Linked DNA regions of Homo sapiens: region 1 is linked to region 2. Evidence: fine-mapped expression QTL. Tissue or cell type: whole blood. Region 2 holds a variant in brackets; the other region holds the start of a gene. All regions are shown on one strand. Distances are from middle to middle.

Evidence for each region. PIP is the estimated chance that this variant, and not a neighbour inherited with it, causes the effect.
Region 1: it holds the start of GDE1, and the variant in region 2 is fine-mapped to the expression of GDE1 in whole blood (TOPMed, PIP above 0.99).

What each region holds. Positions count from the first base shown.
Region 1 is chr16:19,517,332-19,525,432 of GRCh38, reverse strand. GDE1 (glycerophosphodiester phosphodiesterase 1) reads left to right here and starts at 3,335. Exons shown (of 6, transcript NM_016641.4): 1 at 3,335-3,729. The coding sequence starts at 3,469. It overlaps CCP110 (centriolar coiled-coil protein 110), which reads right to left and starts at 1,491. Exons shown (of 14, transcript NM_001323572.2): 1 at 1,345-1,491. RefSeq lists a silencer at 3,374-3,543 and enhancers at 3,654-3,823, 3,134-3,868, 3,994-4,053.
Region 2 is chr16:19,490,864-19,498,967 of GRCh38, reverse strand. TMC5 (transmembrane channel like 5) reads right to left here. Exons shown (of 22, transcript NM_001261841.2): 19 at 6,740-6,818; 20 at 4,602-4,706; 21 at 1,805-1,847; 22 at 1-1,048. The coding sequence ends at 1,002. It also overlaps the pseudogene RNU4-46P. Among named protein-coding and RNA genes, the nearest start is that of TMC5-AS1, 7.0 kb to the right of the region's middle. RefSeq lists a silencer at 2,247-2,458. The variant G/A (reference allele first, on the strand shown) is at 4,055.

The DNA of each region.
Region 1 (8,101 bases), 26 kb before region 2:
GCCCTGACTACAAGGCTACCCCAGCCACAAATCTACTGCTCTATATCTTGCCATCAGGCATCACTGGTCCACTTCCAGTAATAATTTGTCAGCTACAGCAGGTTCAGACATGCCGTCTTCTCCATTTATACCACAGAGAACCACTGACCCTTGTGCAAATGAGCCTCTTTGCAAACCCCGTAGACTCATGGTCCTATCTGCTCCTTACCCGTGCTCTGCCAGACATGTCACTGAAAAGAGTGGTAAAAGTAACACAGAACAGATCCTGCTTTTTTTTTGCAGAACCTAGTGTTTCTTTGCCCATCAGTTCCGCCAAAGACGCAAACTTCTTGTAAAAGCGGTAAAGGGGAAGATTTCTTATTCAGATGCGTACTAGCTGCAAGTTCTTGGCAAGCCAGTTACCATCCCCACACCTGTTTCGTCCTCTGTAAAAGAGGGATGATCACGGTATCCGTCTCAAAGGAATGTTGTAAGAATTCAATGAGCTAATGCATGTAGGGCAATTAACGTAGTGCAGAACACGCAGAAAGCAACAAATAATGGGGACTGCTTTTCTTATTAAGAGGATAATGATGATGACGATTTTTAGCAGTAGAGTATGAATTCCTGGAGGGCAGCGACAGTGCTTGGTTCCCCGTAGGTTTCAAATGAAACTGAAAAATATAGAAAAGGGGACAACGGCTTCCTCATTTCCCTGTCCCTAGACCTCTCCCCGTCAAATCAATCTCGAGATGGCTGCCATTTGCCTAAACTGGGGGTAGGGAGCTTGGATCGTAACCAGAATAGAATCAAAGGGTGGGAACCATCTAGCAGCTCCAGGGGCAATCGATTACTTTATTATCCTCAAGTTTATGCCCCAGAGTGGCAAAGGCGAAGTAAGCAGCGCTCCTAGGGCCTTGGTTGTGGAAACAGGGGCTCATAAATGGCCAATGCACACCCCGGGGAAGCCTCCCTCTCCAGCACCGTGGGAGGGAGAAGAAAAACGGCCCAAACAATTTGATCACCACGATGGGGTTCTCCGGCTCTGGCCCGAGTTTTATTCACCAGGGACGGCCCCCTGCCCTCTCCCCAGCGCCCCATGCCCACCTCCTCCAGCTCCTCCGATTTAAGACTCCAAACCGAGGGCCCTCCAGGCGGGGCCAGCATCGGAGCATCACCTCAGCGCCCGGTGCTGGCTGCCCCCGGGGTCCCGCCTCCCAACAGCCGGCGCCTTTCCAGGGGGCTCGAGGCCCGGGAGCCCAGCACAGAGCCCGCCCTCAGCTTCTCAGGGCGCCAATTTCGCCTCGCCAGACCACCTCTCAGCCCGGACCCGTCAAGGCTCAAGCCCCCTCCTCATGCACACACCTGATCCCCCACGGCCCCTTCAGCTCCTCTCCCCTCGCCACGGGCCTTGTCAGGAAGCGAATGGCTCAAATGGTACTGACAGAGCGCAGCTCGGTCCGCCGCCGCCTTCTCCTCCTCCTCCCCGCCATATTACGGATCTCAGGCTGCAACGCGGGCTCCTGGCAACCGCCGCCGCTGCCACCCCGACTCCACCTCTCAGGGCCGGCACTTCCGGTGGTTGATTCCCGGGCTGTTAAAACCGTTGGGCCACCAGAACACTACCATCCCCGAGGTGCATTGCGCGCCCGCGATGGAGGACGTAATGCTTACGGCCAGCACGCTGCACGCCGGGAAACGTAGTCTTCCTTGCAAGCTAGAGACTAGAATTTATTAATAAATTTACTTATTTAGTAGAATAGGAACACCCCTCAGGGTCTGAAGCCCCCTGAAGTGTTCCTTGAAGTTGCCATTTTTTTCTTATCTGTATAAAGATAACCCCTTTCTATGCAGCCGTTAGAAAACATGTAACATTCACCAAAATATTTTCTTGTAGGTAAAAACTTGCTGAACCCACCGGGCGTGATGGCTTACGCCTATAATTCCAACATTTTGGAAGCCGAGGCGGAAGGATCGCTTGAGCCCAGGAGTTCGAGATCAGCCTGGGCAACAAAGGGAGACGGCATCTCTACAAAAATTTTAAACGTTAGCCGGGTGGGGTGGCGCGAGCCTGTGATCCCAGCTACTCGGGAGGCTGAGGTCGGAAGATCGCTTGAGCCCAGGAGGTCGACGTTGCAGTGAGCCATGATTGCACCACTGCATTCCAACCTGGGCGATAGAGTGAGACTGTCTGAAAGAAAAAAAAAAAAAGGCTGAATCCTAGATGCCAACTGGAAGGCTTAAGACATCTATCCCCTTTTGCAAATCAGTGGGAAAATGCACTAAAGGAAAAAAAGGTAACAGAAAAATCCCTGAATATTTTTGCAAAGTTCTCTACATAAAAATGTTACCAGCCCTCCAAAATATGTCCAGGGGCCCCTTTTCACTCCCTAACTCGGCTTCATGGTCTATCTCTCTTACCCTCCTTCCAGTGCCTGTTTTTGCATATGTAAAATGGGGGTTTTAAAAGTGCCTATCACAAGGGTGGTTGTGAGGCACAGTTGAGGTAACTCCTGTACAGTGCCTGGTACAAAAGCCCTTAGCAGAAGTAAGATTAGGGGGAGGAGGAGTGAAAATGTCACAAATCACTGGGGAGGCCTTTATGTCAGTCCCCACCCTGCCATTAACTGCTTAATTCACCTATCCTCAGTTTCCGCATCTATGAAATAAGGGAATCCTTAAAACCCCTTCCAGTTTTATAATCCGATTGTGCCTTCTTTGCTAGGCTCTTCCAGTCCCCCAGAATCTGGAAAATAAAGTCGATTGAAATCAGTCTCCTGATAGTAACTGTTAGGCTGTATTGAGAATGAGATAAGCATATAAAGTGTTTGCTCGTCAAGTACCTGGGACATGGTAAGTGCTCTGTAAACGTTAGGTGTACTTGCTAACTTTTATTTCCTCCCACAAGAATGTGAATCCCATAAGAGCAAAAACCCTGTAGGTCCTGTTCAACTGTGTCCGGAGCACCTGGACCGGTATTTGGCACATCTTGAATTGAACTGAACTGAACTGAATTGAATTGAATTGAATTGATAGTCTAAGCATCCTGCCTCTCCAGGTTCCCTGGAATTCAGTTTCCTCAAGGGCAGATAAAGGAGTCACTAAAATCCCTTCCAGTCCTACAGCTTTAGGATGGTTCTTATCCCTCCTTTTCTCGCCTAGGAGTCTGAACGCCCAGGTTGAAGTTCAGACCTCGGAAAACCCTAACCCACCTTAGATTTGGAACGTGAGCCTGGGGCCTGGGGCCTGGGCCCTCCCCCGTTGCCATGGAGCGGCTCCGCCCACTGGCGCTGCGAATCCCGATCCCTGATTGGCTGGGCGGCCGACTCCCTCTCTGGATGTGTCTGCTGCCGCCATTGTGCGGCGCTGGTCCCCTCAGAGGGTTCCTGCTGCTGCCGGTGCCTTGGACCCTCCCCCTCGCTTCTCGTTCTACTGCCCCAGGAGCCCGGCGGGTCCGGGACTCCCGTCCGTGCCGGTGCGGGCGCCGGCATGTGGCTGTGGGAGGACCAGGGCGGCCTCCTGGGCCCTTTCTCCTTCCTGCTGCTAGTGCTGCTGCTGGTGACGCGGAGCCCGGTCAATGCCTGCCTCCTCACCGGCAGCCTCTTCGTTCTACTGCGCGTCTTCAGCTTTGAGCCGGTGCCCTCTTGCAGGGCCCTGCAGGTGCTCAAGCCCCGGGACCGCATTTCTGCCATCGCCCACCGTGGCGGCAGCCACGACGCGCCCGAGAACACGCTGGCGGCCATTCGGCAGGTGAGACCCCCACGTTCGCGCCCCTCGGTCCTCCCGAGAGCTCGGACTTCTACTTTTCCTTCCCAGGGTTCCCCGATCTTCTCAGGACGGCCTTCCCACTTCCTCATTCGTCCACAAGGCACACTCCCGGCCCTTGATCGCTCCCAGTGTCTAGGGATCTCCGGACTTGAGGTTTTATATTTACAGAAGACAGCAGATATGTATATAGTTTCTGTGCGCCTGACGCTAAGGTTACATACAGCCAGGAACAAGGTCAAAAGTGTCCCTGGTTTACAGAGTGTACATCGGAATGGGGGAGGCAAGCCTTAAACAAGTAAACACATAAATGAGATAACTTTAAGAGAGTGAAAGGTGCAATGAAGAAATCGGGGGAACTCGAAGGAAAGAGTTACGCTATTTTATTTAGATGGAATAGTCAAGAGAAATCGTCTCCGAAGAAGCAACATTTGAACAGAAACCGGAATTATAAGGAGCCAGGCAGGTGCAGAAGGTCCTGAGATGGGAATAATATAGGGGTGTTCAGGTAACAGAAGAGGCAGTGTGTGGCCTGACTTCAAGGAAGAGAACAAAGACTGGTGTGTGAATGAAGTAGAAAATGGGTCAGGTCAAATAGGTTCTTGGTCAGTAATTGAGGTTAGTCTAAATAGATCACCCTTCACAAGACATACGTTTGCTTGTCTTGTAAATCACTTGAGTCATTTCCTTATCACCTTTTCCCCAGACACACACATTCGCACTCGCACAACCCTGGCAGCTGGACTCACATCAGTTTCTGCCCCCTCCTTTTCACAAGGCACTCCTGAAACTTTTGATACCTCCCAGCTCTTGGCATTCTCCTAGCTTCATAATAATGACAGCTTACAGAGAGGGCTTTTCAGTGGATTAGGCACTTTTGCATCTGTGTAAATATATCTGATTCTCTTCTTTTTTATTTTTCTCTCTCTTCTTCCTTCCTTCTTCTTCTTTTTTTTTTTTTTACTTTACAGAGTCTCACTCTTTTACCCAGGCTGGAGGGCAGTGGTGCAATCTCCACGCACTGCAACCCCTGCCTCCCGTGTTCAAGCGATTCTCGTGCCTCAGCCTCCGGAGTAGCTGGGATTACAGGCGTGTGCCACCACGCCCAGCTAATTTTTGTATTTTTAGTAGAGATGGGGTTCTGCTATGTTGGCCAGACTGGTCTCAAACTCCTGGCCTCAAAGTGATCCACCCGCCTCGGCCTCCCAAGGTACTAGGATTACAGGCATGAGCCATCATGCCTGGCCTCCCTCATTTCCTTTTTTTTTCTTTTTTTTTTTCTTTTTTTTTAAACGAAGTCTCACTGTCTCCCAGGCTACAGTGCATCGGCGCAACCCCAGCTCACTGCAACCTCTGTATCCCAGGTTCAAGTGATTCTACTGCCTCAACCTCCCGAGTAGCTGCGATTACAGGCATGAGCCACCGTGCCCGGCCAAGATTTATACTTTTAAAGCTGCACTCTGGCCCATGTGGAGAATGTACTGTGGGTGTAATTTCATTCCTTTGCCACTGTTTATAGTAGTGTATCTGTTTTTGGAATACACTCAACTCACATTTATCAAGTTTTTCCTTCTATATCTCATTTATAATCTACCAGAAATTCTAGCACTGTCAGAAATGTATATATGTATGTATACATTCGACTTTACCAATAATTTTATTTATTTATTTATTTTTGAGACAGGGTCTCTCTCTGTCACCCAGGTTTGAGTGCAGTGGGGCGATCTCAACTCACTGCAACTTCCACCTCCCAGGTTGAAGCGATTCTTGTGCCTCAGGCTCCCAAGTAGCTAAGATTACAGATGTACTCCTCCACTCCCAGCTAATTTTTGTTTTTTGTTTTTAGTAGAGATGGTGTTTTGCCATGTTGGCAAGGCTGGTCTCAAACTCCTGACCTCAAGTGATCCACCTGCCTCAGTGGATTACAGAGTGCTGGGATTACAGGCAAAGTGCTGGGATCACAGGCATGAGCCACTGCCTGGCCAGCTTTACCAGTACTTCTATGTTATTCCAGTAATTGAGATAAAAAGATGAATCCCTGGTTCTAATTCACATATTAGTATATATAGGAGATATTGCAAGTTCAGTTCCAGACCTGAGTAAATAGTCAATAAAGCAAATATAGTAATAAAGGGAGTCACAAATTTTTTGGTTTCCCAGTGCATATAAAAGTTATGTTTACACTATATTGTAATCTATTAAGTATTGTGTATGTATATATATATATATATATATATATGCACATACACACACATATATAGGTTTTCATCCATGGTTCCTGGCTCATAACTCTCAGCCCTTGCTACAGTATTTTGTTAGGCATCCTAGGCCTTAGGAGCAGGCCTTGGGAAACAGAATCTCTCCTGCCCTCCTTTCACCTACCCCAAGGCAGGACTGGAATCTTTCCCTGTCTTTCAAATTGTGAGTCTTAAGACCCTCCTCAGAGAGGGACCCCACCCTATACCCTGGGGGAAGGAATGCTGACATCATGAAGCTTCCATAAAAACCTAAGAGGAATTAAAAAAATAAAAACTAAAATAAACCTAAGAGGACTTGAAGCCAATTGGTCAGAAGTTCCATAGGCCCCAGCTTGCTATTTGTGTCTGGAGGAGGGTGGGGTGCAGTCTTGGGGACCAAGCCCTCAACCTATGATCTGACACTATCTCCAGGTAGATAGTGTCAAAATTGAGTTGGAGGATACCCAGCTGGTGTCCACTACTTATTGGTGGGGAAAAACCCCCACATTTTTGGTCACAGACGTCGGGGTTGATTGTTGTGAGAGCAGAGGGAAAATGTGATGTGTTTTTCCAAAATAGTCGTACATCTGTATCACATGGGAAAAGGAAAAGATTTAAATAAAGCAGAAAAATCTCCACCCATAAAGGACGTTATTGATAAATTTGACTATATTACCTTTAAAGATGTGTTTAAAAGGACATAATAAATAACAATGGCTAACATTTATTGAAATCTTAACTATTCACTAGCACAGTGCTCTGTGTTGTTTATGGGTACTTAAATAAAAACCGGTAAGGGAGTGACATGAGAATGATATACACCAACTTTAAGATGGTAATTACCTCTGGAGAGGAAAGGAGGAGAATGAAAGGGAGAATTTCAGCTGTATCTGTAGTGTTGATAGTAAAACTGAAGCGGATAAGAGTGCAACTTCTACTGCATCCTAGCTTGTGCAGCCCTGGGCAAGTTTCCTACTCTTTCTTTGTCTCAGTTTTCTTATCTGTTAAATGAGAATATTAATAGTACCTGCTTCAGGGTTGTGAGGATCAAATAAGTTAATACATTTAAAGCACTTAGAAGAGTGCCTGGCAAGTAGAAAAGGCTCAATAAATAATAGTTTTTGTTTTTGTTTTTGTTTTAGTACAGAAAGAGACTGAGGAAATTAGGTCAAAATATTCACATATGTTAAATCTTTTTTACTGTAGATGTTTGCAATAGACCATGACTTAAAATATTTTTTAAAAAATTAAAAATCTTGATCATAGCTGGGCACAGTGGCTCACACCTGTAATCCCAGCACTTTGGGAGACTGAGGCAGGAGGATTGCTTGATCTCAGGAGTTCGAGACCAGCCTGGACAACATGGTGAAACCCCATCTCTACAAAAAATACAAAAATTAGCTGGGCATGGTGGCACGTGCCAGTAGTCCCGGCTACTTGGGAGACTGAGGTGGGAGGATGGCTTGAACCCAGGAGGCGGAGGTTTTAGTGAGCCGAGATCATGCCACTGCACTCTAGCCTGAACAACAGAGCCAGATCCTGTCTCCAAAAAAAAAAAAAAAGAAAGAAATCTTCATCGTAATGAGCATTTCACATCTTTATTGTGATGAGGAAGCCAAGGAAGCAAACATTAAATAGTGTGTCTCCAGAGGAGCATGGCTCGTGTAATTTAAGGTTCAAATTCTCTTTTTAGATAAATTCTAATCTACCTCATCAAGCTTAACAACTTATGGGCCAACAGCCAGTGCTGCTTACATAAACAAAATGTGATATGTCCTAGAAGCAGGCGTGGTGTCTTTGTGGTAGAGGGTGGAATTAAACCAACAAAAACCTGACTCATTTATGCCAAAGTAGTGAAATATCTGACTAATCAACAACCGTAGGGTGATCATCAGAACTGCTGTACCAACAAATAGTGTAGGTAAACAGTGGAATTGTCTAAGTATTCATAAGCCATTGATGACCCATATAGTTAAACATCCAGAGAAAACATAAGTTCCTGAAGTCTCCTAGTCTTCCACTGTGAAAGTAAGAAGAGTGGGAAAATTAAAGTTTTTAAGGAATCCATCAGTTAGGAATTGAAGTAAGGTTATATACACAGAAAACAGAAACAGATCAGG
Region 2 (8,104 bases):
TGCCTCAGCCTCCCGAGTAGCTGGGATTATAGGCATGTACCACCACGCCCAGCTAGTTTTTTTATTTTTAGTAGAGACGGGGTTTCACCATGTTGGCCAGGCTGGTCTTGAACTCCTGACATTAAGTGATCCGCTTGCCTCAGCCTCCCAAAGTGCCGGGATTACAGGCATAAGCCATCGCACCCAGCTAATTTCTTTTCTTTTCTTTTTTCTTATTCAGTCTCCGTAGAGACTGTCAAAAATTGCCAGCGCTGATTATATTTCAAGTCATCACGGTGGGGTATTGGGAAAATTTCCAATTAGCAATAATCGCGTCTCGGATAAATCTCATTGGCTACGGTACTGCCACTGCAAAGCTAGCTTGACGTAGGACTTTGATGGTCATGTATAACACCTCACAGGGGCAGAACCTCCTCCATCCCCGACTCCAAAGACTCATGTAATCAGTACGCAAGAAAGTTCAGAGATGAGACCTCTGGTTGTATTCCACCTTTGGGACATGGGGGATGTCTTTAGTTCAAAGTCACAAATAAATGCAGGTTCTACAATTCAGAGGCTTCATATCCCTGCTGGAGTATTACATGTTTATTCAGGATGGACCACTTTTCTTAGCAACAGTTTCTAAACCTTTGCCAGGTCTGGGAAGTCTGGCAGGAGAGATTTCTAAGAACCAATCATTCCTGCACACACTTCTTGAAGATAATATACATTATTCCCTAGTTATCTCTTCCTAGGTTTTTGTAGGCTCATTTCAATATTACAACAATCTTTATTGGAAAACCCCAAGTATTTTGTCTTGAAAAATCAGCAATCCAGGTATTAAAAATAGCATGGAATGCCCAATTTTACTTTGATAATTACATGGTAGTCAGTTTCCGCTCCTGGCTAAAGCCTTGGATTTTCTTCTGGGCAGTTCCTAAAGGCACAGGTGGCATGGAAGAAATCATTCCATTTTCGTCTCCTCCCCTTATTTGATTGGTGTCTGGTTACCAAAAGAGTCATCAGGCCCTTGGATTACCTTCTTGAACTGATCTTCTAGATCGCAAGTCTAGGTTTGACACAGGAAAGAGAAGTTAACGCAGGCACACTCTGCCCCATCTCTACAAGGGAAAGACCAGCTTGCCTTCAAGATTCCATAGCTTCTCATGCCTTCTTTGCCTCTTCCTTTTAGTTTCTATAATCCTTCCCTTGAACTCCCATCACTGGAAGTCATCAGTAAATGCTATCCCCCAAAAATAAATGGGTTTGCTTGTTTGTTTCCTGCCCAGAATTCGCTCTCCTGGCATCAGCCCCAGATTTTCTTTAGGAAGTCACCCTTCCCTACTCTTGGTCCCTATGGTCTTCATGGTTGCACCACCTGCATCTACAGATGAAATCATGTGATCAAGGGAACTGCCACATTTTTGCACCCACAACAATTGGTTCATAGACGGGGACATCACCCAGTCAGATCCTATGAAACACCGTGAGAATCCTGGGTCCCTCAGTCTTTCCCACCAGACTGACTCTGAGAAGATATAAGAAGTTGATAAAGCTGTCTTGCACTTATTAGGCAGAGTCTATTGCAAAAGGAACTAACATGGGTAAGAACGGAACTGAAAGAAACCGGGTTCTGGTGACACTGTGAGTTCCTGCGTTAGGCAAGGCCTAAAGCAAGAATTATTCTTGGAATTTTGTTTAAGCCAGTTTGGATCCAATTTGCAACTGAAAAAGTAATGGACACATGAGCAATTCTTACACTTGTCTTAGGATATTTCACCAGAAATAAATTAGTGTCTTATTCTGTCCCAGTTTAATTACTCACCAAGACTGCCATCATGTTCCCCCAAATGCAAAAAGCCTTGTTGCTGAAAAAGAAAAAAACAAGCAGCCACGTCACGGAGGAAGAATGCAGATTCTGGGTCTTGTCACATATTTGGCACAATTTGTGAGCCCCTCACCATTTTATAGAAGTTAAGGGATGAGAGATTAAGGCCAAGTCTCCGCCATAGAAATATTGAACATGTTTTGTTTTTTAGGGAGAGTGATTCCATTCATTCATTCCACAGATACTCTTTTTTTTTTTTTTTTTTTTTTTTTTGACAGAGTCTTGCTTTATCTCCTAGACTGGAGTGGAATGGCATGATCTCGGCTCACTGCAACCTCCGCCTCTCGGGTTCCAGCGATTTTCCCGCCTCAGCCTCTGGAGTAGCTGGGATTATAGGTGCCTGCCACCACGCCCAGCTAATTTTTTTTTTTTATTTTTAGTAGAGACAGGGTTTCACCATGTTGGTCAGGCCGGTCTCAAACTCCTGACCTCAAGTGATCTGTCCACCTCGGCCTCCCAAAGTGCTGGGATTACAGGCGTGAGCCACCGCACCTGGCCGTTCCACAGATATTCACTGAGCATTCATATTATGCCAGGTAATAAATTAGGACGTGGGGTGACAAGTGCACAGACGTGGTCCTCACCTTCAGAGAATCTACCTTTAGGCCTCTAGATCCCTTACCTAAATTGTGCTGACAGTATAAATTTGCACAGATGGTAAATTACTTGTCAGTCACTTCTGTCAAGATCACAATTTCCAACATAAGTGGTATTTGCGTTAAGGTGGATTTACTGTTCATCTGTATTTTCAGGACACTCAGGAAGCAAGCAAGGCTTTGGAATTAGAGCAGGGTTTCATGTATCTTTATATTCTCTTGGTAAGAATGAAATTGATTAAATCTTTTTAAGGGAATGATATAGCAATATCTATTAACATTGTCATGTACGTGCTTTGTGGCAGAAATATTCACAAAAAATAACTTTTTAATTTTTTTTTTTTTTTGACACGGAGTCTTGCACTGTTGCCCAGGCTGGAGTGCAATGGTGTGACCTTGGCTCACTGCAATCTCCACCTCCTGGGTCCAAGTGATTTCCTGTGCTTCAGCCTCCCAAGTAGCTGGGATTACAGATGTGCACCACAACACCCAGCTAAGTTTTCTTGTTTGTTTGTTTTTGTTTTTTATATTTTTACTAGAGATGGGTTTCACCATGTTTGCTGGGCTGGTCTCGAACCCCTGACCTCAAGTGATAAGCCCGCCTCGGCCTCCCAAAGTGCTGGGGATCACAGGAGGGAGCCACTGTGCCCAGGGTAATTTTTTTTAGAGAGAGGGTCTTGTTCTGTCTCCCAAGCTGGAGTGCGGTGATGGGATCATAGCTCACTGTAGCCTCAAACTCCTGGGTTTGAGCAGTCCTCTCACCTCAGCTTCCTGAGTAGCTGAGGCTACAGTTGCATGCCACCGTGCCTAATTATTAAAATTTTTTAAGGGATGGGGTCTCGCTATGTTGGTCTTAAACTCCTGGCCTCAAGCAGTCCTCCCCTCCCACCTCAGCCTCCTGAGTAGCTGCGATTATAAACGCACAAAAAATAATTGTAACAAAATGTTTCATTACCTACTGTTTTAAGTATTTAAAAACATAGAAACAACCCAAATATCCAAATATGTACAGAATTAAACATCGTTCAAGATATAGTATTTAGTGGTGGGCTGCGGGGGAGGGAAGTTATGATACTATTTGTATAATATAGCCTCACTTTTGTAATAAACAAGTAAATTAAAGTGTTGGTAGATACAGGTATGTTTGCAGATGCCTAGGGAAATAGATTTGCAAGAATAGACACTGAAGTAGGCCGGGCGCGGTGGCTCACGCCTGTAATCCCAGCACTTTGGGAGGCCGAGGCGGGCGGATCACGAGGTCAGGAGATCGAGACCATCCCGGCTAAAACGGTGAAACCCCGTCTCTACTAAAAATACAAAAAATTAGCCGGGCGTAGTGGCGGGCGCCTGTAGTCCCAGCTACTTGGGAGGCTGAGGCAGGAGAATGGCGTGAACCCGGGAGGCGGAGCTTGCAGTGCGCCGAGATCCCGCCACTGCACTCCAGCCTGGGCGACAGAGCGAGACTCCGTCTCAAAAAAAAAAAAAAAAAAAAAGAATAGACACTGAAGTATTCATAGTGAGATGAGATTTCAGGGCCCTTTTCATCTCAGTGGGATCTACTTCTGTATTATCGGGGTTGTGAAAAACAAGC[G/A]TGCAAGTTCCATGAGGGCGGGGGCTTTGTTTTGTTCACCGTAACCCCAGCACCTAGAAAAAGTACAGGCATGAAAAGTGCTGAAAAAATGAATATTACTTTTTTTTGAGACAGAGTGCCACTCTGTCACCTAGGCTGGAGTGCAGTGGCATGATTTTGGCTCACCGCAACCTCCACCTCCTGGGTTCAAGCAATTCTTCTGCCTCAGCCTCCCAAGTAGCTGGGGCTACAGGTGCGTGCCACCACACCCAGCTAACTTTTGTATTTTTAGTAGAGACAGGGTTTCACCATATTGGCCAGGCTGGTCTCAAACTCCTGACCTCTTGATCCACCCGCGTAGGCCTCCCAAAGTGCTGGGATTACAGGCGTGAGCCACTGCACCTGGCCATGAATATTACTTTTTAAGTAAAAACCACAGAAATACTTAAGACAGAGAGTGAAGGGCCCTTCCATGATCCCAAGAGCTTGGTCTGTAGTTCTCTGACGCGCTTTTTACATGGAGGCAAGCTCGTGTCCCAGGGGTCCCCAAGGCAGCCTCCAGACTCACCTCCACCTCTCTCCTTTCCAGAACAAGTGAGCTGGGGTTTGCTTTCTTCTCCATATCCTGCAGCTTGATCAATTTTTCTATCAGGAACATTTTATCTTTGCCCTCCTACCAAGAAGGAAAACAAAACCAGAAAGAAACAAAAATATGAATGAATGATGGTATGGAATTGAGAAAGCAATTGATGGGAAGAACGTCGGTTTTCAGGCAGCTAGGATCCTAGAAGTTGGATGGAGGTTACTGCCATCTTTTGGTGAAAGAAAAGAAACATTTCACAGTAAAACCAAATTATCCCCCAGAGCCTTCCTGCACTGTAATATTCTCCTCTAAAGCAATTCCCCTAACAGGCTTGAGAAAGTAGCCTCCAGAAGTCGGCTGCTGGAAGCAACTTACATGCCACGTCTCAATACCCAGGAAAAATGGTTTCCAGTATCCCCCATAGGCACGTGCCCCAGAGCAAGACTCCATGTCAAAACAAAAAAAAAAGATATATGTAGGATATGGAAAATATGAAACAGATGACCTGCATTCTTTAACAATAAAAAGAAAAGAGGAAGTGGGGAGGGGAAGTGGTAAATGGTTATAGAGTAAAAGAAAGTTAGGCATATTGGCTGGGCGCAGTGGCTCACGCCTGTAATCCCAGCACTTTGGGAGGCCAAGGCAGGTGGATCACTTGAGGTCAGGAGTTTGAGACCAGCCTAGTCAACATGGTGAAACCCCGTCTCTACTAAAAATACAAAAATTAGCTGGGCGTGGTGGCACACACCTGTAATCCCAGCTACTCAGGAGGCTGAGGCAGGAGAATCACTTGAACCCAGGAGGCAGAAGTTGCAGTGAGCCAAAATCATGCCACTGCGTTCCAGCCTGGGAGACACAGTGAGATTCTGTCTCAAAAAAAAAAAAAGAGAGAGAGAGAGAGAGAGACATTAACCAAATGCAACATGTACCCCCTTTTCAGATCCTGATTTGTGCAGTTCTAGTATAAAAAGACACTTAAGGGGACAGTTGGGGAAATGTAAACATTGGATATAAGATGATAATAATAAATTATTGTTAAGTTTTTTAAGTGTGATGATGATATTGTAGTTATTTTTAAAAGTCTTTATCTCAGCTGGGGGCGATGGCTCACACCTGTAATCTTAGCACTTTGGGAGGCCGAGGCGGGCGGATCACCTGAGGTCGGAAGTTTGAGACCAGCCTGACCAACATGGAGAAACCCCATCTCTACTAAAAATACAAAATTAGCCGGGTGTGGTGGCAGGCGCCTGTAATTCCAGCTATGCGGGAAGCTGAGGCAGAAGAATTGCTTGAACCCGGGAGGCGGAGGTTGCAGTGAGCCAAGATTGCTCCACTGCACTCCAACCTGGGCAACAAGAGTGAAACTCTGTCTCAAAATAAATAAATAAATGAAATAAAAGTATTTATCTTATAGAGAGATATATATATATATATATCTAAGTTTTAATAAATAAAAAATAATATAAAGCCTAAGATTTGCTTTAAAATAATCCAGGGAGCCAGATGGAGTGGCACCTGCCTGTAATCTCAGCTACTCCGGAGGCTGAGGCAGGAGCCCAGGAATTTGAATCCAGCCAGGGCAACATAGCAAGACCCCCACCTCTAAAAAAATAAAATAAGGCTGGGTGTGATGGCTGTAATCCCAGCACTTTGGGAGGCAGGTGGATCACCTGAGGTCAGCAGTTCGAGACCAGCCTGGCCAACATGGTGAAACCCTGTCTCCACTAAAAATTCAAAAATTAGCTGGGCATGGTGGCAGGCACCTGTAATTCCAGCTACTTGGGAGGTTGGGGCAGGAGAATCGCTTGAACCCTGGAGGCAGAAGTTGCCGTGAGCCGAGATTGCACCACTGCACTCCAGCCTGGGCAACAAGAGCAAAACTCTATCTCAAAATAATAATAATAATCATCATAATTAAAATAAATAAATACTAAGAATAAAAATAAGGGATTTGCTGGGAAGAGAAAGTGTAGATGAAATAAGAATATAAAAACATTGATGGTTGTTAGGGCTGAGAGCAGGGATATGAGAGTTCATTGTAGTATTCTCTTTATTTTGGAGGATGTTTATACAGCGTTTAAAAAGGGTGAGGGCGGACATCAGAGGGATCCAAGGGGACTTACATTAATGATCTGCTCATGGAGCAGCCTTATCATAATCTTCCTTCCCTCTGTGATCTGCCAGTAAAGATAGGTGATGATTCTGGAAGAGGAGAAAAGAAAGAATGACACTCTTGCAAATGTTTTGCAGGCTCTGAATTTCCACTGGATGCAAAGGAACTGGAATCTGTGCTTGCAGATGGATTTGGCCCAAACATGTTTCTGAAAAGTCATGTCAGGGAGAGTTATAGGTTAAATACATTGGAACAATGGTTCCTGAAGGGGGAAATAAGCCCATGCCACAGCTCCTCTTCAGACCAATTAATTGAGCATCTCTGGGCATGTCATCTCCTTAAGAGGAGAAAAGCAGGTATTGCTTTCTTAATAGAATAAGTTAAAAAAAAAGTCCCTAAGATGACCCAGCACGGTGGCTCATGCCTGGAATCCCAGCACTTTGGGAGGCCAAGGCGGGCGGATCACTTGAGGTCAGGAGATCGAGATCATCCTGGCTAACACAGTGAAACCCTGTCTCTATTAAAAATGCAAAAAATTAGCTGGGCGTGGTGGTGGGTGCCTGTAGTCCCAACTACTCGGGAGGCTGAGGCAGGAGAATGGCATGAACCCAGGAGGCGGAACTTGCAGTGTGCTGAGATCGCGCCAGTGCACTCCAGCCTGGGTGACAGTGCGAGACTCTGTCTCAAAAAAAAAAAAAAAAAAAATCCCTAAGACAAGAAGATAGTATATATAACCTTTCCCCCCTTCCCCCAGTGATGGGGTCTTGCTCTGTTGCCCAGGCTGGAGTGCAGTGGCACGATCAGAGAACACTGCAGCCTCAAACTCCTAGGCTCAAGCAATCCTCCCATCTCAGCTTCCCAAGAAGCTCAGACTACAGGCACAAGCCACTGCACCAGGCTAAGTAACTTCAAAAAAACTATCAATGCAAGCTTGGGCAAGGTGGCTAACACCTGTAATCCCAACACTTTGAGAAGCTGAGGCAGGAGGATAATTTGAGGCCAGGAGTTTGAGACCAGCCTGGGCAACACAGGGAGACCCCATTTCTCCAAAAAATTTAAAAATTAGCCAAGTGTAGTGGTGCACACCTGCAAGCCCAGCTACTTGGGGGCTGAGGTGGGAGGATGGCTTGAGCCTGAAAGGTTGAGGTTGCAGCAAGCCATGACCATGCCGCTACAGTCTAGCCTGAGTGAGAGATCATGACCCTGTCTCAACCAAAAAAGAAAGAGAGAAGTAAGGAAGGAAGGAAGGAAGGAGAAGGGGAAGGGAAGGGAAGGGAGGGGAAGGGGAAAGGAAGGGAAGGGAGGGGAAGGGAGAAAGAAGGGGAAGGGAAGGGAGGGGAAGGGAGAAAGAAGGAAGGAAGGAAGGAAGAAAAAA